Homo sapiens: one gene and its partners. The protein of the gene in region 1 purifies or fractionates together with the protein of each later gene. This does not show direct contact. Each region holds a gene or a part of one and is shown on either strand. Other genes may lie near its edges.

Region 1 (7,722 bases):
GTTTAGAATTGTTCACTTGTTCCAAATTCTATGATAGAGAGGCGGCAGCAATACATTCATTAATACTCTAAATGAGAGTATTTGATGTCCTCTAAGTTTATTCAGGAAGTATCTTATGTAGCTAAGAAACATTTGTAGAGATAAAGGTCTGTTTGATAGCCTGGGGGCAGAGGGATAATGTTTGCTTAATAAAGATGATCGTTTTGGGATGTGCCTTAGAAACTAACAAACTCGCATCTCCTATCCAGTGATCCAGATCTCTGAGCTAAGGCACATAGAGGTCTGTTAGTAAAAAGGGAATGGCAGGTTTATTTAGGTTTGGTTAATACTAGTTTTTTACAGACTATAGGAAGCCTTGCTATTTTGCTTGGAATAGTTTGTTGCAATAGTTTATTCTAAAAACCAGGTGTTGAATTTAATATATGGCAGCTTTTATATTTTTATATAGGATTTATTTCTGTGACCCTAAGCACAAGCAGGCTTTTTTTTTTTTTTTTTTTTTTTTGAGACAGTTCTGTTGCCCAGGTTAGAGTGCAGTGGCGTGATCTTGGCTCACTACAACCTCTGCCTCCCGGGTTCAAGCAATTCTCTTGCCTCAGCCTCCCGAGCAGCTGGGATTACAGGCGCCTGCCACCATGCCCAGCTAATTTTTGTATTTTTGGTAGAGACAGGGTTTCACTGTGTTGGCCAGGCTGGTCTCAAATTCCTGATCTCGTGATCTGCCCACCTTGGCCTCCCAAAGTGCTGGGATTACAAGCGTGAGCCACTGTGCCTGGCCTGCACAAGCAGTTTTTATGTGCCTTCCCTTCAGTTATGTTCGTGCTCCTCAGAATAACCCTGTAAAGTAGGTAGGGAAGTCATCTTCATTTTATAGTTGAAAGACTCAAGACTCAGAAATAAAGTATTCACAGTTTTGTATTAAGTTGGAAAACCAGTACTGGAACCTGGGGGGTCTTCTAACTACTGGCCTGTGCTCTTTAAGCTGCAATAGCTATCCCACTTTGAAAAGAACGTATGAAATACAGTTGCAGTCATGTATACTCCATCTCCAAAGAATGGATTCATTCTTCATGTCATGGTATATTGACTATAATTTTCTGTTTTTAATTACCCAGATTCCAAGCCTGTTTATAGAACTTATACCTGAGGAATGGTGAGGATTAGAAGAGGCCGCAGTCCTTGAGGTTTTCTTTGATGATAATATCTGTAACTGCATCAAACACAAATTTGACATTCTGTGTATCTGTAGCACAGGTCATGTGACTGTAGATTTCTTTGACATCTTTTCGCATATTGAGGTCAAGGAACTGGCTCTTTATGTAATTCCCCGCATCATCATAGGAGTTGTTACCTGGTTTTCCAGAAAAATAGTGAAAAAGTAGAATAAATGAACCCTTGTTAGTTGCTGACTCACTTTAGGTGATTGACTTGATCCTTGAAATGTTATTAGACAACAGCAGTTGGGGGCCTATTTTTGGAGGGAAGATTCTCTATTGCACTCCAGTGTTTCTCACTTTAGTTGAAAAGAAATTGAGGAGAGGTGTCTTTCCACCTTTGGTTTTCAGTAGGTATCATATGAAGTCAGTGGCTCTCCTGCATCTAATGCCTGCTGTATTCCAGAGTATCTGAATTTAAACCCTGTAACTGTGCCCAAGGTTCTCCCTTAAGTTCCTTTGTGTCATCTTGGCCTAAAAAATGAGACAATTGCCAGTCTCTACTAAAAGGCATTATTATTATTTCCAGCCCCTGACACTTACCATCATACTCTGGAAAACAAATGCTGAGATGGACTTTCTTGATTTTTTCCTCAAAGAGGTCCTTCTTGTTGAGAAAGAGGACAATGGAAGTAGCCGCAAAGAATTTGTGGTTACATATGCTGTTGAACAGATGCAAAGACTCATGCATACGATTCTAGTAAGAGGAAACACCATTGGAAATATCAGATTTGGCTTATAGAATATCTACCTACTTCCTGCTCTTGTTCCCCTTGGAGAGACCAGTGCTCCAAATGTAAAAAGCAAGACAGAGAACAGCTTATCTCAATGTACCAGAGTAAAGCCAGAGAGATGTGGGATCATTCTAGTTCCCTATCTTTCTAATAGCTGTGTGACTTGTGGAAAATTATTGAGCTTTTTCTGAGTCTGTTTTCCTATCTTATAGGGTTACAATGAAAGCTAAATGAGATTGTGTATGTATATTGTCCATGATAGTGGCTGGCATATAGGTCTATAATGTGTTATGCAGATCTTTAGCAGCCAGGATGCAACTGAGAACTTGACATTTTATAAGTAGTGCTGATAATGGGTTGAAACAGGCCCAAGTTAGCATGTGCCCATATGCATCTCCAGGATGATTTTGATAGGCTTCTTTCATGGGGTCCCAGATCTCAGTTTGGGCTACTTTGGTCCTGCTGCCACATGGTGAGAGTTAGAGAATTTCCCAGTGCCATACCACAAGCATTTCTGCTCTCTCATTTCCTTCTCTGATTGCTACTTAGCGAGAAGTCGGGCTGCATATCTGCAGAGGCTGCCCATTGCCCCAGCCCAGCTTGCTTTTAGGGAGCAGGTCTTTAGGGTTTTGAAGTATACTATCAGCTGACTTGCGTTCAGTCTACTTATCTAATAAAGCAAGAACAATCCCATTTGTGGCTTTTTCCCCATAATACTCCTGTACAACCCTTTAAGGTCTCATAGACTTGTTTTATTAATGTCTCATAGACTTTAATAAACCTCATAGACTCATAGACTTTAGGGTTAAAGATGGAAAGTCTCATAGACTGTAATCTTTAGGCTTAAAGATGGGAAGTGAATAGCTCTGTAAGACATTTTGATTAGACGATATTCAGAGTGCTCTAATGTGAAGTTAAAACTACCAAAGGGAAGGGAAGAGAACAAGCTGTGGCAAGGGATAGGAGTATCCCTTTCATCAGCAAGCTGTGGACCTCCATTTGTAAGCAGATGCTTGGGTGAAATTAACATTTTTCACGCCTCTAACCTTTCCCAAATTCAGAGGTCATCAGCAAGGTGTGGACCTCCATTTGTGAGCAGATGCTTGGGTGAAATTAACGTTTTTCACGCCTCTAACTTTTCCCAAATTCAGAAAGCAGATGCTTGGGTGAAATTAACGTTTTTCTCACCTCTAACCTTTCCCAAATTCAGAAACTGGCTGGGCTCTAACACTTGTCCTATAGAACTCCTGTCCTACAGAATTCTACAGGCTAAAGAGAACCACTCTTGGGTAGTCTTCCAGCTGCCAATTTAATTGGCATGAGAGAAAGCTGGTCTGCCAGTCTCTCCTTAAACTCCTACGGACAGTACATTTTTAGCCTCCTAAGTGGGGTTACTAGCTCAACCCTTCTATTATGTTGCAATGAAGATTCATATCATATGTTATTTTCTCTGTTCTGTCATTTTCATCTCCTTCCTTAGGCAATTTGGGAGAGTACTAAGTGTAACTCCTTTGCTTTGCCTAGTTGATGGTCCCTTATCTCTTTGCACTCAATTCCTCTTATGAGCTTTGTGATGTCCAAGTGATACTTAGATGTCTAATTTGAGACCAAGCTCACTGTCAGTAAATTTGGAGCTCTAAAATGCTAATCTAGAACCTGCAGAAGAAGTTGTTTTTTAGAATTATTTGCATGAGACATTGATTGGTCTGCTGGAGGGCTGCTAGACTGAAATTACCTAAGTTGGGGCAGTAGAGTGACACAAGGCTTAGAGAAAGGGTCATGGGGAGAACTTGTTCTACCAAAGCTGCTTGATGCAAAGGCCACTCACCACTTCGTCATCTTCCACCAGCACCATATCATAGGCACTGAGGGCTGCACAGAAAATGATGCAGGTGACTCCCTCGAAGCAGTGGATCCACTTCTTTCTCTCGGATCTCTGCCCTCCCACATCAAACATCCTGAGGGAAGAAGCAGCTATTTTCATAGGTATGCCCAACATACGACCTATATGCCTTTGATGGTCACCCCGTGAAGTGGGAGAGGAAAAGGGGGAGAAGCAGAACAGTAATTTAGATTAGGCTTCACCAAAGGCCAAGAAGCCTGCCTGTGCCCCTTTTCAGGATTCCACACGTGTATCCGAGATGCCCTAGGGAACCATGCACTTACCTGAAATTCAAGTCTTTGACGGAAAACTTGGTTTCAATGATGCCCGTGGTTTTGACTCTGGATCGGAGCACATCTTGCTCACTAGGGAGGTACTCAGGGTCTGTAATTCGTTCTAATTGGTTCAGGTAGCTAGAGAAAAGTGATTAGCATCAATGACAAATTTTCCACAGACGAGGCTAAGAGACGTAAAAGGTATCTTACCCAAAGTCACACAGCTAATTTGGTGATAGAAATCAGGACTAGAAGCCATATTGTTAAATTTAGGATTCTTTCCTTCAAACCTTCATATGTCATTAACTAGAGGAAATGGGGGATGGACTGAGGGACAAGCCCATTTGAGGCTGGAGTTCCAGCGCATTTAAATCAAGTTAGATAAGTTTTCCTTGGGTTTGCCCTGACTGCAAGCTTTTGTAGATTTTTGAATGAGATTTAGTGGGTGCTAAAAGTTCCATCAAGAGGCAGTAAATTGAAAGAGACTTTAAAGACATGAACCAATGCAACACATGGACTTTGTTTATATCCTGAATCAAACTGGGGAGGAAACATTTGAGATAACTGGGGAAATTTGAACACCGACTTGGTGATATTTGATGCTATTAAGGAATTGTTAACTATTTGGGTGTGATTATATTCTTTTTATAAAAAGGGTCAATATTTTAGAGATCCATAATGACATTTTTAGGATGAAATGATACCTGGAATTTGCTTCAAAATAATCCAGTAGGGAATGGAGGTAAAAAGAAATAAGATTGGCCATGAGTTGATAACTGTTGAAGGTAATTCATTATGTTATTTCTACTTTTGTATGTTTGAAAGTTACCTTAAAAAAGAAAAAGTTATTTTTTTTAAAAAAAAAAAAGGTGGCCAGGCACGGTGGCTCGCGCCTATAATCCCAGTACTTTGGGAGGCCGAGGCGGGCGGATCACAAGGTCAGGAGATCGAAACCATCCTGGCTAACACGGTGAAACCCCATCTCTACTAAAAATACAAAAAATTAGCTGGGCATGGTGGCGGGCGCCAGTATCCCCAGCTACTTGGGAGGCTGAGGCAGGAGAATGGCGTGAACCCGGGAGGCAAAGCTGGCAGTGAGCCGAGATTGCGCCACTGCACTCCAGCCTGGGTGACAAAGCGAGACTCCGTCTCCAAAAAAAAAAAAGGCAAGAGGAAGGCAGATGTGAACTGAGATGACTGAGAGGAGGAGGGAAGTACAAGTAACACAAGTGCCTATTGTATGCCAGGCATTTTAATGTTCAGATTCTCGTTTAAACTCCTAAGCCATCAAGTTTCATATCCCCATTTTACAGATGGAGAAATTCAGAAGAGTTAAATACTTGGCTAGGGTCAAGAGAAATTGTGGTGTATTATGAAAAATATTCAGCTTTGTAGTCAAGCAGCCCAATGCAAATGCAGTCTCTGCTATTTATCTACATGACCTTGGGCAGTTAATTAACTTCTCTGAACTTCAGTTTTTCCATGTGTAAAATGAGGCTAATTAGAAAGGTACCATCTACCTTAAGGTCTTACTGCGTAGATGGGTAAAGGGCGTTGAGATGGTATACACAGTACACCTAGCAGTGACTGGGCTTTGAGTGCTCCGGGAACAGTAAGTGATAGCATTATTACAAGATTAGGAGACAGATGGTTAGGTTAAATAAACTCAGGTTTGACTTTGAAGCCCATACTTGTCTATGATCCCATACTGTCTGAGGTAGGATTGATAAATTATGTCCCTTAGCTTTTTGGAAGCAGCTTTGCAATGATGGTACTAATTCCTGACCACCTTCCCTTGGTTTGCCCTTGTAGTTTGTGTCCCCTGCCTTGGCATCGTGACATAAGATGCTCTAGGTGTAGGAGACTCATTTCTGCTTAGTGGCCTAAGTAGATCCTAGATTACCAGATAGAAAATTCTGCCCTGAAAGAGCCATCATGAATCACATTACTCCTGCGAGAGTGTATGACAGAACTGCAGGGCTATCTTAGGGTTCTGGAAGGAGAGGCTTAGTGTACACCTCAATTAAGAGAACAGGGCTGAGGGCTACTAGGCAGAACACGTCTTTTGAATTTTGCATCTTCAGCCTTGTAGGCTGTAGTGAGCCAGTGTAAAGCAATAGAAAGTCATGACAACTGTGGCAGATCTCCCCATAGCATTAAATTCAAAACATTGCTGAAGCCTAACAAAACAGATCCACAGGCTGAATTCAGTCTGGGTCTCCAGCTTTCAATGCCTGAAATTTTGGGTTGGGTGAGGTTTCTCCCAACCAGAGAGAAGACTGGCTAGAAGATTGCTTAAGCATCAACCCACCCTCTCACCAGTCAGTCTTACTAAGATGCGGAGTCATTAAGCTGGTATTCTGCAGCTCTCTCGAAGCAGGCTTGCACCCCACCATCCTTCCACAACCTCCTAATGACCTCCACGAGCTCAGGAGGCATGGTTCCCTCCTCAATGGAGTCAGCCAGGTTGTTGAGCTGTCGCCCGTCATCCTGTAATGCAGAAACCTGGTTAAGAACTTCACAGGAGTAATAGCTTTCCAGGAGGCTTCTGGGAATACTGCTGAATGGAAATCATTTTACATTACTACGAAGACCTAAGATGGAAGCAGTATCCAGTGAAGATTCTATGTAAGAAAACATACTGTTGAATTTTTGAGTATGCTCCCCAGATGCAGAGGGTGGCACTATACCCAGCCCTGGGGTGTGTCTAAAGCGGGGCAGGGGTCCCAGGTATTTCCTCTCTGGAGTTTCTGGCTTCCATCCTTAGTCTGAAAGTTTACCGCCACAAAACGTGGGTCCTCTGCTGCAGAGAGACTGAAAATGTAAAGGCCAGATTGACCATGAAATAGACAAGATAGAAGACAGGGACCCATCACCTTTGTTCTTCAGCGATTGAAAGCTAGAAAAAGTCCAGTACTAGAAGTAGGGATTTCACTTACAAAAGTTCCATGGCCAGGAACCCAAGGGTAGCAATTTAAATGGTAAAGTAAAAAAGCAGAGGAAGCTGTGAGCAGCTTTATTTTGTAAATATGTGTTATAAAGTAGGGCTTGAGGACAGGCACGGTGGCTCACACCTGTAATCTCAACACTTTCGGAGTCTGAGGCAGGAGGATTGCTTAAGGCCAGGAGTTTGACACCAGCCTAGACAAGATGGCAAGACCCCTTCTCTACAAAAAAATTTTAAAAAATAGCTGGGTGTGGTGGTGCACACCTGTGGTCCCACCTACTGGGGCTGAGGTGGGAGAATCACTTAAGCCTGGGAGGGTGAGATTGCAGTGAGCCATGATCACACCACTGCATTCCAGCCTGGGTAAGAGAGGAAGACCCTGTCCCAGTAAAAATAAGGGTGGATGTTGCTTACTTCTCCAGGACTGCATAATTGTGGTGTATTATGAAAAATATTCAGCTTTGTAGTCAAGCAGCCCAATGCAAATGCAGTCTCTGCTATTTATCTACATGACCTTGGGCAGTTAATTAACTTCTCTGAACTTCAGTTTTTCCATGTGTAAAATGAGGCTAATTAGAAAGGTACCGTCTACCTTAAGGTCTTACTGCGTAGATGGGTAAAGGGCCTTGAGATGGTATACACAGTACACCTAGCAGTGAGATCCCACCCA
Region 2 (8,418 bases), on another chromosome or scaffold:
ATTAAAATAATACTCTGGTTACTATTCCTGTGCATAGATCTTTGTGTATTTGTTCAAGTTTCTCTGTATAGTAGAGCCCTGTACATGAAAATGTCAAAGAGTATATGCATTTTAAAATTTAAAAGATACTGCCAAATTGTCTTTTAAAAAGGCCAGACTGGGTGCAGTGGTTCACGCCTGTAATCTCAGCACTTTGGGAGGCCGAGGCAGGTGGATCACCTGAGTTCTGAGTTCAAGACCAGCCTGCCCAACGTGGTGAAACCCCATCTCTACTAAAAATACAAAAGTTAGCTGGGCATGGGGGCGGGCACCTGTAATCCCAGCTACTCAGGAGGCTGAGGCATGAGAATCTCTTGAACCCGGGAGGCAGAGGTTGCAGTGAGCTGAGGTCGTGCCACTGCACTCCAGCCTGGGCAACAGTGCAAGACTCTGTCTCAAAAATAAACAAATAAAATAAAATAAAGGGGCCAAACCAATTTACGCTCCTACTTAGAATATATGAGTGCAAGTTTCTTCATATTCTTGCCAAAATTGAATATTATCAATCTAAAGATCTTACCAACTTGAAAAGAAAAATTAAAAATATTTAATAATCTTTTATATCTATTTCTAAAAGTAATAATTATTCATTCAAACATATTGTTAAAAATGTTTTATTTGAATAACAGTAATTTGGCTTGTATCAGGTGCCATGTAGGGTCCAAGTGAAGCAGACAGTTTTATTACAGAATTTTGGTTTGAAGAGGGATGCTTTGAATAAATATCCAAAGGTTTAATCAGTCCAATAGTCCCAGTGGGGACTATTCACTCAGTTTCAGAGTGAAATAGTCCCATAATTATTTAAGCATAATTATGGGGTTTGTCTATTTCATAGACGGCATTAGCAACAGGAATATTTGTAGGATTGATGGGAATGGAGATTAACTTGGAGGTCAGATAGTGACTTAGTGAATGAAGTGGCTGTAGACCACTTCTCAAGGAATTTGTCCTTAGTTGTAAAGAAAGTTACTGAATAGGAGAATCTGGAGAAAGATTGTTCTGGTTCTAGCTTCCTTTTTCTCATCTGTGAAATGAAGAGGTTGAACTTGGTGATTAATAGCCATCATTTTATACACACTTGCCATAAATCAGGAATTTTATAGGCATGATTTCATTTAATCCTCCCTCAGAAGAGTCTTATGAATGAGGTACCATTATTATCCCCAATTTACAGAAGAGGCTGAGGCTCAGGAAAATGTTATATAACTTGGTCTAGGGTGGTTGGCTTAAGTCCAAACCCATATGGTTTCCATCGTGCTACTCTGCATCTAAGTGGCTTCCCAGCACTAATAGTCGAAGATTTTGAGTAAGGGACATTTTAAAATTTTGTTATTTTACTGGTCTTTTAAGAATAGGACATATTGGAAGCTTTTTGTATGTTAAAGGGAAAGCATAATAAAAAGAGATTTAAGGCAAGTTATGAAATTGATGACCTATCTTTTTTTGTAATATTACTAGGCTAGAATCACTACAGAGAGTGGGCAAAAATATACCAAAGGCAACTTTCTTACAGATTCAATGACAACCACAATAGATTTTTCACATACTCATGGCCTTATGGATAATAAAAATATTTTGTTATTTTTGATTCTTTATGGGAAGGTCACACAAACAATTTCAAGGATAACTGTGGAGGATTTTATTTAGAGGGTGTTGTAGTTATCTTTAAAAAGGACAAATGAGTTTCATGAGAGAAACCGAAATTAAGTTCCATTAAAATCCTGCTGTGATTTTGATGTGGACCACACTGTCTTGACGGATTAATTTGGAAAAACTTGACTCCATGCAATACTGTGTCTTCCTATCTGGGTGCACTAGATGTCTATTTGTTTTGGTGTTTCCATTAATTTAAAAACCTGAAAAATGTGCCAGAATGAAAAGAAATAGTTATTTTGAAAAAACAAATCATTTCTCAAAAATAACATTTAGATGTAGCTACTATGCCTTTGATCATTTTTGAAAGGAGTGGCTTAGGTTATTATTTATGTTCACAGTGAGATGATCATCTACGTAGGTTTCTGATTTCACCGGTTGTTTAACACAAGCCACTAAAGACAATATTTGGCCTGGTTGTTGGGTCTGCAAAAAATAAGGTTTGTTAATGACAAAATCTAACACAACTTGTCAATGCAAATATTATTATGAAGCCCTGCTGCTTGTATTTAGACCACAGGAGAAAATTATTATTATTCTACAAACCCGTGAAGTTTAACACGCAAAGGCTTGTTACACAGTCAATGAAGAACAGTTGTTTTCTGCCCTTCCATAAATAACTAATGCCAAGAGCAGCCTGGCTATCTGTTTCAGCTTCTTGTTACAGAATAATAAAATAGGCAAGGCCTAAATATCAGTGCCTGTTAACAGAGCTGTCCTTTAAATTCTGTTTAGCTTCTAACAGACTAATTCTCATGCTTTTAGTACTTATTACATTGCATTTTGAATCTGTCAATTGCATTGTACATTTTCCTAACTCTTCCATTTCCATACGTTTATCTACTCCATTTCTAATTGGGTTGGTAGTTCTGGGTAGGACTCATTACAGAGGCAGCTTAATGTAGCGGCAAGCACCCTGGTCTAGGAGTCATAAGCAGTGTAGTAGGAAATTCAGGCTCTGTTACTACTTAGTTGTGTGACTGGACAAGACACTTAACCTGCATCTATTTCTTCATCTGTGAAATAGGGATAATAATACCCTATCTTCCTAACTAATAAACAACGTTGCAAATGTTCTCTTTAAAATGTCAGACAGCTGCTTGGGAAATATTTTGCTCCTGGGCAGTAATTTCTGGAAGGTTTCTGATGACAAGAAATTAAGCAAGGTTTGTTTTGACTCCGAAAAAGGAAAGCTGGAAATAGCGTGGTTATACTTGGTTTCCTTTTTGGAGGTATAGTTCTTCTTTCCTCTTCAACTTGGGTGCAGTTAAATGTGGAAGAAGGTGAGATGTGGTAGGTGATGAAGACAGCCAGAACTGTACACACTAATGAATAGCTTAAGTAATAAGAGATCTTGAAAATCCAAGTAGTTTCTTGGTCTGATAAACATATCTATATGTATATCATACACACATTTGTATACCAAAAAACGGATAGTTTCAGGCTATAGTGATTTCTTTCCTTTATATCTTGTAGAGCTGGAGGAACTTCAGTAAGCTGAAGACTCTGTTCAGAGGAAATTACCTAATTGAAAATGTCTGGGCTAAGAGACCGACAATAAAGGAAACTGGCAAAAGTACTCTTTAATTACAAGTTCTTTTTCATCTTCATCCAGCACACTGATTTATGTGCTACACTGGGTTTGTATTATATCTATATTTTAATTCCACAACTAGACACTAACTTTATTGAGAACAGCGATATTCATTTCTTCAATTTCATTTGTGTTAACCCAACTGTAGGTGATAGTGCTCTGTACATCATAGTTACCCAGTGAATTACGTACCTGACATATGATTGCTTATTTCTGGTATTAAAACAAGATTTCATAAAATAAACATGACAATTAAACTCGTTGTTTGAAGTACTGAACTTTGTAGGTCAATCTTGAAAAAGGAAGCTACATGACTGTCTTAGCAATATTTATAGGTATATTATATGTAAGTGGGTGGGTTTCTTGGAAATTGAATTGGTAATATGGCTTTAGAGTAGTAACACAAAAACTATAGCTCTGTGCTCTCAGCTAACCACTTTTAGTGTCACCTGGGCTGCTTATTAAAAATTCAAATTTCTTATCCCTACCCAGATCAGAATCAAAATACCTGGGGGTTGTAGCTCCAGGTACCTACATTTCAACAAGCACCCCAGATAATTGTGATGCACACTGAAGAACTACTCTAGCTTGTAATCTCAGGTGGTAAGGCATTTTATATATACATATATATATACACACACACAAGCACAAATGGTAATTCTATGGGAAAATGGAAATCAGCAAGTGAAGTGAAATGTCAATTACCATCAGGAACAGGAAGCTAGTTCACCATTACGCATCAGGGAACTGGAAGAATTCTTGAGATTTATTTTTTTGGGTGATATATTCTTGGCAGTTTATCAGGCCTCATTTGCAATTATGGTCTGTCCCTTTTGAAGCCCTCAGATAGTTCGCTGGCATTTTAATTTTAATAGCAATTTCTTGCATCTGTTGGAACAGCATTCGTATGACCGGCTTATAAGCAATGATCAGGGCTAGTAAGATGTCACAAAGCTGCGGTGACTTTTCCTTATCAGTTGGGGGTTTTTTTGCCATGATACCATCGTGGAAATGAAAGACAACGTGAAAATCCTGCGTCCTTGTGATATTTCATCAGTGGGAGTGAGCGGGGATCTTAACGCAGTAAGAGGCAAGATAAACGGATGAGAGGCATTAGTTCAGGCTTACAGGAGCAAGATGCTTTTAGTCAAAGTGTTCAAGATAGCTCTCTTAAAGAGGAGCAGTGAAACCCAAAAATGAGTGTCTTTTGAGGGCAGCTGGAAGATGACCCGAGGGGAACTTTTATCCTGGGGTGGAGTCCTGCGAAGCAAGCCGCAGGTGAGGGCGTGGGCCAATTCTGCGCCTCACTGCTGTTAGGCGCAAGGACATCCCGAAACACACTCAACGACACCAGCAGCGAGACTGACAGAAGCGGATCGCCAGCGGGAGCAACAACTTGAGGCGAGCCGTTAGCCGCCTCGCCTTCCTCGCAGCGCCCCTCCCGCGCCCCGGGAAGCCCGTTCGGCTCCGCCTTTTCGACTGACGTCCCGGGCGAGCGGGGGCGGGCGCGTGGGTGGGCCGAGCCGTCTGCAGCCAGCGATTCGGCTGGCTCTGCCACACCACCGCGCGCCCCCGCTCCGCCCGCCCCTCCGGGCGCGTCTTTTCCGGGCTCGCGCTGAGTCCCGCCTCCGCCGGCTGTCCGGGTGCGCGCGCGCCGCTGCGGCTTTTTCTCTGGCCTCCGCCGCGCGCTCCTCCTCGTCCCAGCGCTAGCGGGCACGCGGTTCCTTTTTGCGAGCTTTCCGAGTGCCAGGCGCCGGCCGGCTGCGAAGACGCGGTGGGCCGCCCCTCCGGTGAGTATCCCTGGATGGGGAGGTTGCGGCCCCGGCACCCCTGCCCTGTCGGTACCAGGGCCCCATTTCCAGAGGGGGACTGGCGTACCTCACCTGAGCCGGGAGGAGGTTGGGTGGGCATTCCAGCTCCTGGAGTCGGCTCGCTTTTTTCCTTGAGCCAGGGCTATCTATCCGCTCGCCTCCGCTGGGGCCGGGAAGATTCCCGAGGTCACTGTATCTGCTCCTGTGATGGACTCTGGGGTCCTCGGAACCCCAGCCTGCCTCTTCCTGCCGCTCACCGCATCCCGAGGGCCAGAAGTCATCTTCCTGATCGGGGTACTAGGCTTTGCCACGGCCCTTTCCGGAGGAGACCATGAAGTGCTTGCTAGACCTCCAAACGACCTTTAGGGTGCCCCTAAACCTCAACTCCATTTTGTCCCCTCCCAGTCGCTCTGTAACTGAGGGCTAGGGAGCCTCTCTAGCCCTAGAGGCATCCGCCCTCTCGAATTTGAGGGATGCCGTCGCTTCCGATATCTTCCTTGCTTCCGATATCTTCCTAGCTTCCGTAGGCTTAGGTTTGTTAGAAAACAGCTGGATCCTGGCGAAGCGTGCTTTCCTTCCTTCCCCCACCCCCGTTCTTTCTGTCTACATCCCTGCCTTCAGTGGGTGCTATATATTTAGTATGAGCTTTATTCACTTCCTCTTCCTCTCGTTTGAGTGCCTGAAAGAACTGTGGCTGATGTCTATAGACATAGAAAAATCTAGGAGAATATGATTCATTGTCTAACCCCATCAAGGGGTTACATATTTTAAATAAGACGTCATTTCTCCTCTTCACTCCAGCATCTCCTCCTTCAAAGGCATTTTTCACCCTCTTGAAATTAATACGCTCTATTCGCTCTTTTCACCTAAAAAAAGGTCAATCGTCGCTCTGAGAAACAACAGTGAGATGCAAAATAAGGGTAAAATGGCATTGAAATGAATCCCTTTGAAAAAGTAAGCGGTTTGCTTTATCAGTTAATGGTCTCATCAGCGCTTCAGTTTCCTCTTCTGCAAAAATCAGTCTGTTGAACTAGAGCATATCAAAGGTTCCTTCTAGTGTTTTGATTCTAGGACCTCTAAATTCATGCAGGCTGCATAATGCAAATTTAACCTGATTAAAGCCTTATTTCTCATAGTCGCTTGTCACCTTAGTTTTTCTTTTATTTTGTCTCTAACAAGAAAGACTTTTAAATGTTCTTGATACGTAAGGCAGCAGGTGGAGATTCAATGATGGTACTGCCATTGAGCATATCGGTCAAGATTTTAACAGTGTAAGGCCTCTTCCTTAAATTGTAAAATAGCTCATCTTTTGATTGAAACTGCTAAAGTGTAAGACATGTAAGACTCCTGTTAGAATTAACACTCTCTGCCATTTAGGTGGGGGATGAAACATTAAACTGTTAGTATACTTGTACCTTAGAATAAAGTACCTTATTGTCCTGCTATAAGAAATAATTTGACAACTAAAAATCCATGGAAGGTGTAATACAGCAATTGAAAGCTTGAGTAAATTCAATTTTGTGGGTTTTTTTTTTTTTTTGGAAAACCCCCTATTTAAAAACACAAGTGATTTAGATTAAGATATTTCTTTCAGTATTTTTGGTAGGGGTGAGATGGGTGAAGAAAGAAGAGTCTTGTTCAATTCAGACAAGAGAAATGAATTGGAACTCTGGAGAGGCTCAGGTTCTAGACCCAACTCTAGATATATATTTAACCTTGAACAAGTCACTTCACCTCTCTTAGTTTTTGCATCTGTAAAATAAGTGTCTTTATGGTTGTTGAAATGATCCACAAGTCCCCCAATTTGAATGATATATTCTTATAATGAATATATATGACAAATATATATATACACACGTGTATATATAGGTATACACACACACATATAATGCAATTTGCGTTAAGGCTGTTATAAATCCTGTTATACCAGTTGACTAGAATGTTTTTCTCAAAGGTTTGTGTATAGTGGTTTCAATTTAGGTATACTTAGTTCTTAATCCTGATTAAATAAATAATTATATGTGAAAATCTATAAACTCAGAAGCATTTTACAAATGTTGGGTATTATGTTAATTTCTGCTTGCAAGTGAAATGTGTGTTATACCGCACTATTTTTTAAATGTCCATGGCTTTTAGAAATTTATAAGGGAATGGCTGGGTGTGGTGGCTCACGCCTGTAATCCTAGCACTTTGGGAGGCCGAGGCCGGCGGATCATGAGGTCAGGAGATCGAGACCATCCTGGCTAATACGGTGGAACCCCGTCTCTACTAAAAATACAAAAAATTAGCCAGGCGTGGTGGTGGGTGACTGTAGTCCCAGCTACTTGGGAGGCTGAGGCAGAAGAATGGCGTGAACCCGGAAGGTGGAGCTTGCAGTGAGCCGAGATCGCGCCACCGCACTCACATACTGCCTTACAACTGTAATTGGCTAGGAACTTTAAAATAATATGTGGGCATCTCATTCATTTATTAATTCATTCAACTATCTTCTTCCTTCATCTGTCACGTATGTCAGGCCCTCAGGACATGATGGTTAAGACAAACCCTACTCTATGAGTTTATACTTTGGGCTGATGGAGATGGTTGGGGGGCATGTGGAGAGACAGATGTACATCCAGTTTATTTTTGTTAAAAACAACAACAGTCAAATCAAGGACAAACAAAATTCTGGAGAAGTTAAGTTTCCATAGGGGAGGAAGAGATGATTCTATTAATTGTAGCCTGTAGACTCTTTGACATTACCTTTTTCTCCATCCTTTCAATTGCTGAGCCTTTAGCAAAAATAAAAGCTTTGTTTTTCCACTTCTACCATTGGCTGGTCTTATATACTCTTTCTTTCCCTTTTAACTTTTTATTTTGAGATAGTTGTAGATTCACATATAGTTGTAAGAAATAATACGCTTTATCTAATTTCCCCCAATAATAGCCTCATGCATAAGTATAGTGTAACATCACAACTACAAAATTGAAATCGATGCAATCCATCAACCTTACTCAGATTTCGTCACCTTTAATGCAGTCATTTGCATGTATGTATTTAGTTCTACATAATGTTATCACGTGTAGATTTATATAAGCACTACCACAGTCAAGATACAGAACAATTGCATCACCACAAGGATCCTTTTTGTTGTCTTTTTATAGATGTAGCCATCTCCCTTCATCCCTGACTCCTGGCAACCACTGATCTGTTTTTCATGTCTATAATTTTGTCATTTCAAAAATGCTTATATAAATGAATCACACAGTATATAACCTTTGGAGACTGACTTTACTTCACTCAGCATAATTCCTTGGAGATTAGTGCAAGGAATATACCTT
Region 3 (7,722 bases), on another chromosome or scaffold:
AAATGGTGAACTGTGTTGACTGCAGTTATTATTACAGTGACAAGTAGTAAATAACTCCTCATTTTTTTTAAAATGCATGTGCCATACTTGGCACTGGCATATCCATTTCATGCAACCGCCAGTTTTACTGTTTGATTCATAATATTTTCCAATGCTTTGGCAGAGTTCGTTGCTAAATAAACTTCAATCTGACATTTCATGATGAATTTCAACTATGAAAAACTGTTATGAATACTGCCATGTACACATTTTAAAAGAAAGTTACAAATATTAGAATATTCACCTTTAAACCCTATCAGTATTTCATAGCATGTGTTTTAAAAAACTAAAATTTAACATAAATTAAAAACTATCTTAAAAATTCAGCAACGAATCAAAATGATGTGAATATATTCTTTTTTTTCTTTTGTTATCATCAGAATTTGTATTGATAGAGGAACTCTGACTATGCCCAACGAAGGCAAATACTTTTTTGAAGGCCATAAAATAGTAACATCAGGAAGAAGATGCTTCTGGTTACTATCACATGAATAAATCCAGATCTGTATCATCACTAAAGAAAATACTAAATGGCTAAAGACCAGAATCATTTATAAATAAATGCAATTCATTTCTAACTTGGGCTGTACCCCCAACATCTGTTTCTAAATTAGTTTTCCTGATAACAGATTTTATTTTCCCATAATAATTCATGTCAACTGTCGTAGACAGGTCCCCAGCTGCCTCTTCATCATCATGAGGTGGGGAGGCTGTGTGTTTAGGCTGCAGCTTAACACAGCTTACATAGGAGCCCCAAGACCTGCCTGGAGTGCCGAGCAGGCTCAAGTGTAGAGCAGGAGTAAGTAAGCAGCACACTCCTCACTGCCACTTCTTTACTCCCCATTCCTCTGGAGTAGTTCTGTGAAGCTTCCCCTGCTGAGGGACAGGTAGGTAGGGGTACCAAGGCAGCAGGAAGGAAGGTTTTATTTTCTTCACCTCCCTCCATGGGACACTGCAGTGAGACGTAAAGCAGAAAACAGGGACAGAGAGAAAGATCAGGGGAAGCCTTACAAGGAAAAGAGTCAGCTAATGGCTGCAATGAGAAGGAGGCCATTCCCACAAGTAACAGATAGGAAGAGTTCTCGGAACATTTTTACAAAGAAGGTCCATACAGGTAGGAAATGTCTATGGACATCAAATATTTTAAGTAAAAGTAGTATGAATTCCACGTTCTTACCTGTTTGCATATGCACAAATGTTATCTACTAGTGGAAGATTCTTCAAAGCTGCCTCTACTTTCCCAAGAGAAACATATTCCCCTGCCTGTAGTTTTACAAGGTCCTTTTTACGATCTGCAAAACAAAGAAAGGTGGAGAGGGGAAAACAATGAGTAATAATATTAGTAACATTTAATACATATATAAATACTGGCCATTCTCTAAGTAATTTGCTATCAAATTATTTAAAACTTTGCAAAATTAAGCATTAATGGTTATGCTGAAATTAAAAGCACATATTAAAATTAGGCCCTAATTTTTGTACTGCTAAATACATGCTTTTTTTTTTTTTTTTTTTTTTTTGAGACGGAGTCTCGCTCTGTCGCCCAGGCTGGACTGCGGACTGCAGTGGCGCAATCTCGGCTCACTGCAAGCTCCGCTTCCCGGGTTCACGCCATTCTCCTGCCTCAGCCTCCCGAGTAGCTGGGACTACAGGCGCCCGCCACCGCGCCCGGCTAATTTTTTGTATTTTTAGTAGAGACGGGGTTTCACCTTGTTAGCCAGGATGGTCTCGATCTCCTGACCTCATGATCCACCCGCCTCGGCCTCCCAAAGTGCTGGGATTACAGGCGTGAGCCACCGCGCCCGGCCCATGCTTTTAAAAGAAAAACAGGCCAGGTCCAGTGGCTCATGTCTGTAATCCCAGCACTTCGGGAGGCCGAGGCGGGCACATCACTTGAGGTCAGGAGTTCGAGACCAGCCTGGCCAACATGGTGAAACCCCGACTCTACTAAAAATACGAAAACTAGCTGGGCGTGGTGGTGCACACCTGTAATCCCAGCTACTCAGGAGGCTGAGGCAGGAGAATTGCGTGAACCCAGGAGACAGAGGTTGCAGTGAGCTGAGATGGTGCCACTGCACTCCAGCCTGGGCGACAGAGCAAGACTACATCTCAAAAAAAGAAAGAAAGAAAAACAATTAACTTCTACTTAATGGACTCCATTAGCAGGGCTTCAAGTATGTTCTTCTGAACAGGTTTATTTCTGGTATCCATTAGTACCAGGCAGGTGAAGAAGATATTCAATGCCATCTGCAAGTTCACAACCTATCTGGAGACATGCATAATGCAAAAACGTATTACTTCAATACATTGGTACTACAATGGTAGCGCTAAGTGTTAAGACTCTCCAACCTGGGGATTTGGAAAAAATTCTTGCAAGTGAGGCCTGAGCTGAGGGTTGGATGGTTGGTTGGTTTTGAGATTTTGAGACAGGGTCTCACTCTGTTGCTCATACTGGAGTGCAGTGGCACAATCACGGCCTCCTGGGCTCCTGTGATACTCCCACCTCAGCCTCCCGAGTAGCTGGGATTACAGGCCTGAGTCACTATGCTCAGCTGCTTGAGCCGAGTCCTAAGGGAAAAGTGAGAGGTCAGGTGCAACAACACTGGCAAAAGCCAGAAGAACATCAGCTCTAATTTCAGCTGCATCAAGGAGGAGGAGGAAAACAACTGACGATGAAGGTGAAGAGGGGAACAATGTTAACAGGGGCACCCTGAACTGAGCTTCTAGGAGACATTAAATGGTTGTGGCCAGTAAGATCCATGTTTAGTAATTACATGGTGGCAGTGAGAGGGTGTGTTTAAGGGGGTAAACATGGCAACAGAGAAATTATTGGGAGAGGGTGGCAGAAGGTACAGGCCTGACCAATGATCAAGTAAGAGAGACAAAGAGAGAAGAGTATGATTTTGAGACATAGCTCATAAAATAAACTAGTGGGATATAAAATAGGCATGGGAAGCTGACTGAAGAGAACAGTCTTGAGTCTCCTCCCAGGTTTCTAGTTAGCAAGACAGGGATAGAAATGCCATTAACTTTTTTTTTTTTTTTAGACAGAGTCTTGCTCTGTTGCCCAGGTTGGAGTGCAGTGTCGCGATCTCCGCTTGCTGCAAGCTCTGCCTCCCGGGTTCATGCCATTCTCCTGCCTCGGCCTCCCAAGTAGCTGGGATTACAGGTGCCCGACAAAGACACCACACACGGCTAACTGAAATGCCATTAACTTTTAAAAAAAAAGAACCTAAAAGGAGAAGCAGAATAAGGTATTTTTCAACCCATATGAGTCATAGTACTTGAGCTGCCTGGCTTTCCTCTATTCTCCTGGGCAGGGCAAGGCAAGGGTGCAGTTCAGACTGTGAGAGCTCCATCCACTAATCTCTAGATGTCAGAAACACAGGCAGGAAACAATGACTGAAGGTTATCTAAGAGTAATTTAAAATACCACTGCTGCTGAACCATCTTTGAGAACTCATAACATGTCAGGCCTCATAAATTCCACAGTCCGTAATATTTTATATTCCAGGAGTGATGCAACAACCCAAACTAAGATTACATAAAGATTTATATTATTCAGCGCCTCCTCTAAATATATTGTGCTTCTTGTGTAAACTATTTCAGAAACATTCATTTTCAAAAAAATATTAGATGACTTACCAATAATCTTTAAGCATCCATCGGGTTCAAACTCTCCAATATCCCCAGTACAGAGCCACCTTTGTCCATTTTCATCTTCAAAGAAATCAGCTTTTGTTTTTGCTTCATTTTTGTAGTACCCCATTGTCACACTTTGGCCCCCAATAAGAATTTCACCCCTGGGGTGTGGCTTATCAGTATTAAAGTATCCACCTAATAAAATAATAATTGAGTTAATAGTTGAGTTAAATACAACACATGAAAATTTGAAACTACTAGTTTCTAAACAGTCATCTTATTTTAATCCAATTAGAACTTCCCAAAGGAAAAAAGGCAGACACTATGAATGAACAAAGTTTATCAATTTAACAGTAGGCACAAAATCTCAGTTGCTAAACCATAAGTATTTATGTTTTCAAACTTCTATTCTGAGAAAAAAATTAAACTCTAAAACCCAACATCTTCCATTTGTTGTATAAAATTATAAATACAAGAGACAAATTATTTGAAAGATTCTGCAACATCTTAAATATCATATTGATAAACTGACAGAAGTATTAAGTCATGCAATTAATAGAACAAATCCCTATATAAGAATGAGTTACTGCTGGGCCAGTGGCTCATGTCTGTAATCACAACACTTTGGGAGGCCAAGGAGGGTGGATCGCCTGAGGTCAGGAGTTTGAGGTCAGCCTGGCCAACATGGTGAAACCCCACCTCTACTAAAAATACAAAAAATTAGTCGGGCATGGTGGCGCACACCTGAAATCCCAGCTATTAGGGAGGCTGAGGCAGGAGAATCACTTGAACCCAGGAGGTGGAGGTTGCAGTGAGCCGAAACCATTGACACTGCACTCCAGCCTGGGCAACAAGAGCAAAACTCCGTGTCAAAAAAAAAAAAAAAAAAAAAGTGAGTTACTACATATTAAGATTTATTCTTATAGATAATTTCAAAATGACTCCAAGCCTAAATTTATTAAATATTCCCACTAATTCTGCTAAAGATAGCTAAAAGACATCCAAGCCTTAGAATCTTTCTTTATTTATTTATTTTGGAGATGAGAGTTTCGCTCTGTCACCCAGGCTAGAGTGCAGTGGCGCAATCTTGGCTCACTGCAACCTCCACCTCCCGGGTTCAAGTGATTCTCCTGCCTCAGCCTCCCGAGTAGCTGGAATTACAGGCACGCACCACCACGCCTGGCTAATTTTTGTATTTTTAGTAGAGACGGTTTCACCATGTTGGTCAGGCTGGTCTCGAACTCCTGACCCCATGATCCGCCCGTCTTGGCCTCCCAAAGTGCTGGGATTACAGGAGTGAGCCACTGCGCCCGGCCAGAATCTTTATCTTTACTTAATGTAGAGGAAAGGTGCATCCCAATAAAACACAGATAATTTGTATATTTTAACAGGATCAAATAAATTTTTAAGTGACCATTATTTTAAATGGCATGAGAATAAACAGACTTCTATGGAATTGCAGTGAAAATTTCCTTCTAATAATACAAGGTTGAAGCCCTCAGAAAAAAAAAGAAAAAAATCATTTAAAAATCCACAATTTCATAAAATAAATTTTATAATTTTACTTCTGCAAAATAAAGTTATGATCACTCCTAATTTATTGACATTATTCACTTATTAGTACATTTCTCAAGTTTTTGCCATAATTCTTACTTGCATCTACGTAATAAGTAAAATGAAAACAATAATAGTTCTTCAGAAACATCTTTGAAACAAGAAAAATAAATGCATTCATATAGTTCGAGATAAAACACGTCTATCACAAAGGACAAAAATGAGCACTTATGGGTGTTTACATTCTAAAGCAAGAAAGTGAAGCACTAATTTTCAAGTTTAATACTTTAAAAATTAATGCTCTGTGGTTAAAATAGTTTATTACCTTCCTCCCAGTTTTTTAATTTGATTTCACAGCAAACTAATGGTGCTCCCACTCTGCCAGTATTGTAGTCCCACACTAGGAATTAAATGAAAAAAAGGATATTTGAGAACAGTAGCTAATACACTGCTTCATTTTTCTAAATTACCAAAAATGATTATTTATCCTAAGGCTGAGGTATCCCCAGCTATTCCTTAAAAGCAGAAGTCACATATTGGTGAAGCACAGGCCGTGAGGCCTGTAGAGTCGTATTTTTTGGCCTACATTGAGGTTTTTTTTTTTTTTTTAAATTAGTTATTGTCATTCTTAAAAAATCAGGAAATTTTAGATGTAAGTGTGGAATCGCCAGCAACAATGGGCCCACATTTCAGGTACAGCAGAACTGACGGCCTCTGTTAGAGAGGGCATGCCTGCTCCTGTTCCCTCAGAATCAATCCTTACCCATCACATTGTCTTACATTAGGGCCCACTTGACTCATTTAAATAGGTAGCTGCCTGGTTCTTGAGTTTGAAATCCCTGTCTTAAAGGATGATGAAAACAATGGTTTACGTCTATTCTACTTTCTTATTAGGCCTCACCGATGTGCAGTATAAAACACCTCTCTAATCTTTTCCCATGTAATGTATCACCATTTCAAAGTGAGATCTCTGCAGGCTTCCATCAGCTTATGCTATCACACCCTATTTAAAATTAATACAGCAATAGCTCAAGAGCCAGGCTGAAGAATAAGACTGGTGGCTTTCAAGGATGTGAGGAAAGAACCCTCCACTATTATGAATTACTATTGCATTATGTTTCCTCTTCAAAGACCAAATATCAGAAATGAAAGGCTGATATTTAACATTTTAAAGACTTTTATTTAAAACATAAACTGTTACTGATTAATCATTCAATTTGAATCTTAAAAATAGAAGAAATTAAGGATCCTCAGAAGAAAGAAATCCCCTATGCATGTATTTAAGATTGCTTATTTCCTACAAAACATGACTTAGAACTAGCTTCCAAAAATATACGAAAACAGAGAACATAACTGAAAAACAGAAAAATGAAGTAATACATGAAAATGGTATACAGAGCCACTCAAAATAAATAGGGAAAAATCAGTCATGAGGTTTTGTATCTATCCGTATATGGCAAATACAAAGTAGGAGAAGCACAGCTGTATCCTGTACCGGAAAGCAAAATAACTTTCTCCCATAAAAGGGACGCATGAGGCCCTATGCGATTCATCTCAGAACTGCTGATTAGTTGGTAGATCTCCTCCTCAAACACAACCACATGATAAACTCTGGTAATAATATTCCCTAGACCAGAACTTAGTTCCTTCTCTAACACTTACAGAAATCCTCATAAACATTTCTGAACCTGAGCCTTAATATACTCACCTACACAAATAAACAAAAGCACCTTAAGTTTTCTACATAAAAAGAAATTTAATCACTGATGTGAGAAAATAAATGTACACAAAACAGTCAGTGTTTGTTACTAAAGTTTCTCTTCCAAAATGCTAAGTGGTTTTTAATATTACCTATCAGTTTGATATAAAAACTTCTCCAGATAAATTATTGACTCCAGATGCATCTAATACATTCTAAAAATTGATATCAATGATCATAGTACTTGGAATCCACCATTATTCTGCCTCACAAACACCTTACTACTCTTCTCCTATATATTTGCAGAAAATATCCCATACCCCAAAAAAACGTCTGGCATCACACTCCAGCCTCTGACCATGGAGAACACTACCTTCGGAAATTGTTCCAGCCCCAGCAGATTCAGTGAGCCCGTATCCCTGACCAACAGGACAGCAGAAACAGATGTTCATGAATCGCTGCGTGGTTGCAGAAAGTGGAGCGCCACCACACAACAGGAGACGAATATTTCCCCCTAGCAAGCTTCGAACTTTCCGGAAAACAAAGCTAAAGAAAAAAATTAGAGAACCACAGGATTTTAAAACTGAATGGGATTTTCCAAATCACTTAAACTAATCCCCCAGTTTTGATATGAGAGATTTTGAGATTAAGTTACTTATCCAAGGTCACACAGCCAATTTGGAGAGTCTCTTGAGCCCCAAATGTTAATTTTTTGAAGTTCAACAAGGTAAAGAATTTATTATTTCCTCTTAAGAGCTTTTCAAGTGATATTCGAATTTGAATTGTCA

The links.
Region 2: the proteins of GNAT2 (region 1) and ACSL4 purify together in Homo sapiens (affinity purification with mass spectrometry; 3 studies listed by BioGRID and IntAct, with this or other methods). This does not show direct contact.
Region 3: the proteins of GNAT2 (region 1) and ACSL3 purify together in Homo sapiens (affinity purification with mass spectrometry; 3 studies listed by BioGRID and IntAct, with this or other methods). This does not show direct contact.

What each region holds. Positions count from the first base shown.
Region 1 is NC_000001.11:109,602,194-109,609,915, forward strand, and holds the end of GNAT2 (guanine nucleotide-binding protein G(t) subunit alpha-2), read right to left. Parts: intron 6,596-7,722; coding exon 6,438-6,595; intron 4,244-6,437; coding exon 4,115-4,243; intron 3,907-4,114; coding exon 3,777-3,906; intron 1,912-3,776; coding exon 1,758-1,911; intron 1,352-1,757; coding exon 1,161-1,351; 3' UTR 898-1,160; downstream 1-897. UniProt on the Homo sapiens protein: Guanine nucleotide-binding proteins (G proteins) are involved as modulators or transducers in various transmembrane signaling systems.
Region 2 is NC_000023.11:109,729,797-109,738,214, reverse strand, and holds the start of ACSL4 (long-chain-fatty-acid--CoA ligase 4), read left to right. Parts: upstream 1-4,957; 5' UTR 4,958-5,076; exon of another isoform or gene 5,077-5,704; intron 5,705-8,418. UniProt on the Homo sapiens protein: Catalyzes the conversion of long-chain fatty acids to their active form acyl-CoA for both synthesis of cellular lipids, and degradation via beta-oxidation. Preferentially activates arachidonate and eicosapentaenoate as substrates.
Region 3 is NC_000002.12:222,926,775-222,934,496, reverse strand, and holds part of ACSL3 (fatty acid CoA ligase Acsl3), read right to left. Parts: intron 7,481-7,722; coding exon 7,308-7,480; intron 5,636-7,307; coding exon 5,561-5,635; intron 3,877-5,560; coding exon 3,685-3,876; intron 1,332-3,684; coding exon 1,217-1,331; intron 1-1,216. UniProt on the Homo sapiens protein: Acyl-CoA synthetases (ACSL) activates long-chain fatty acids for both synthesis of cellular lipids, and degradation via beta-oxidation.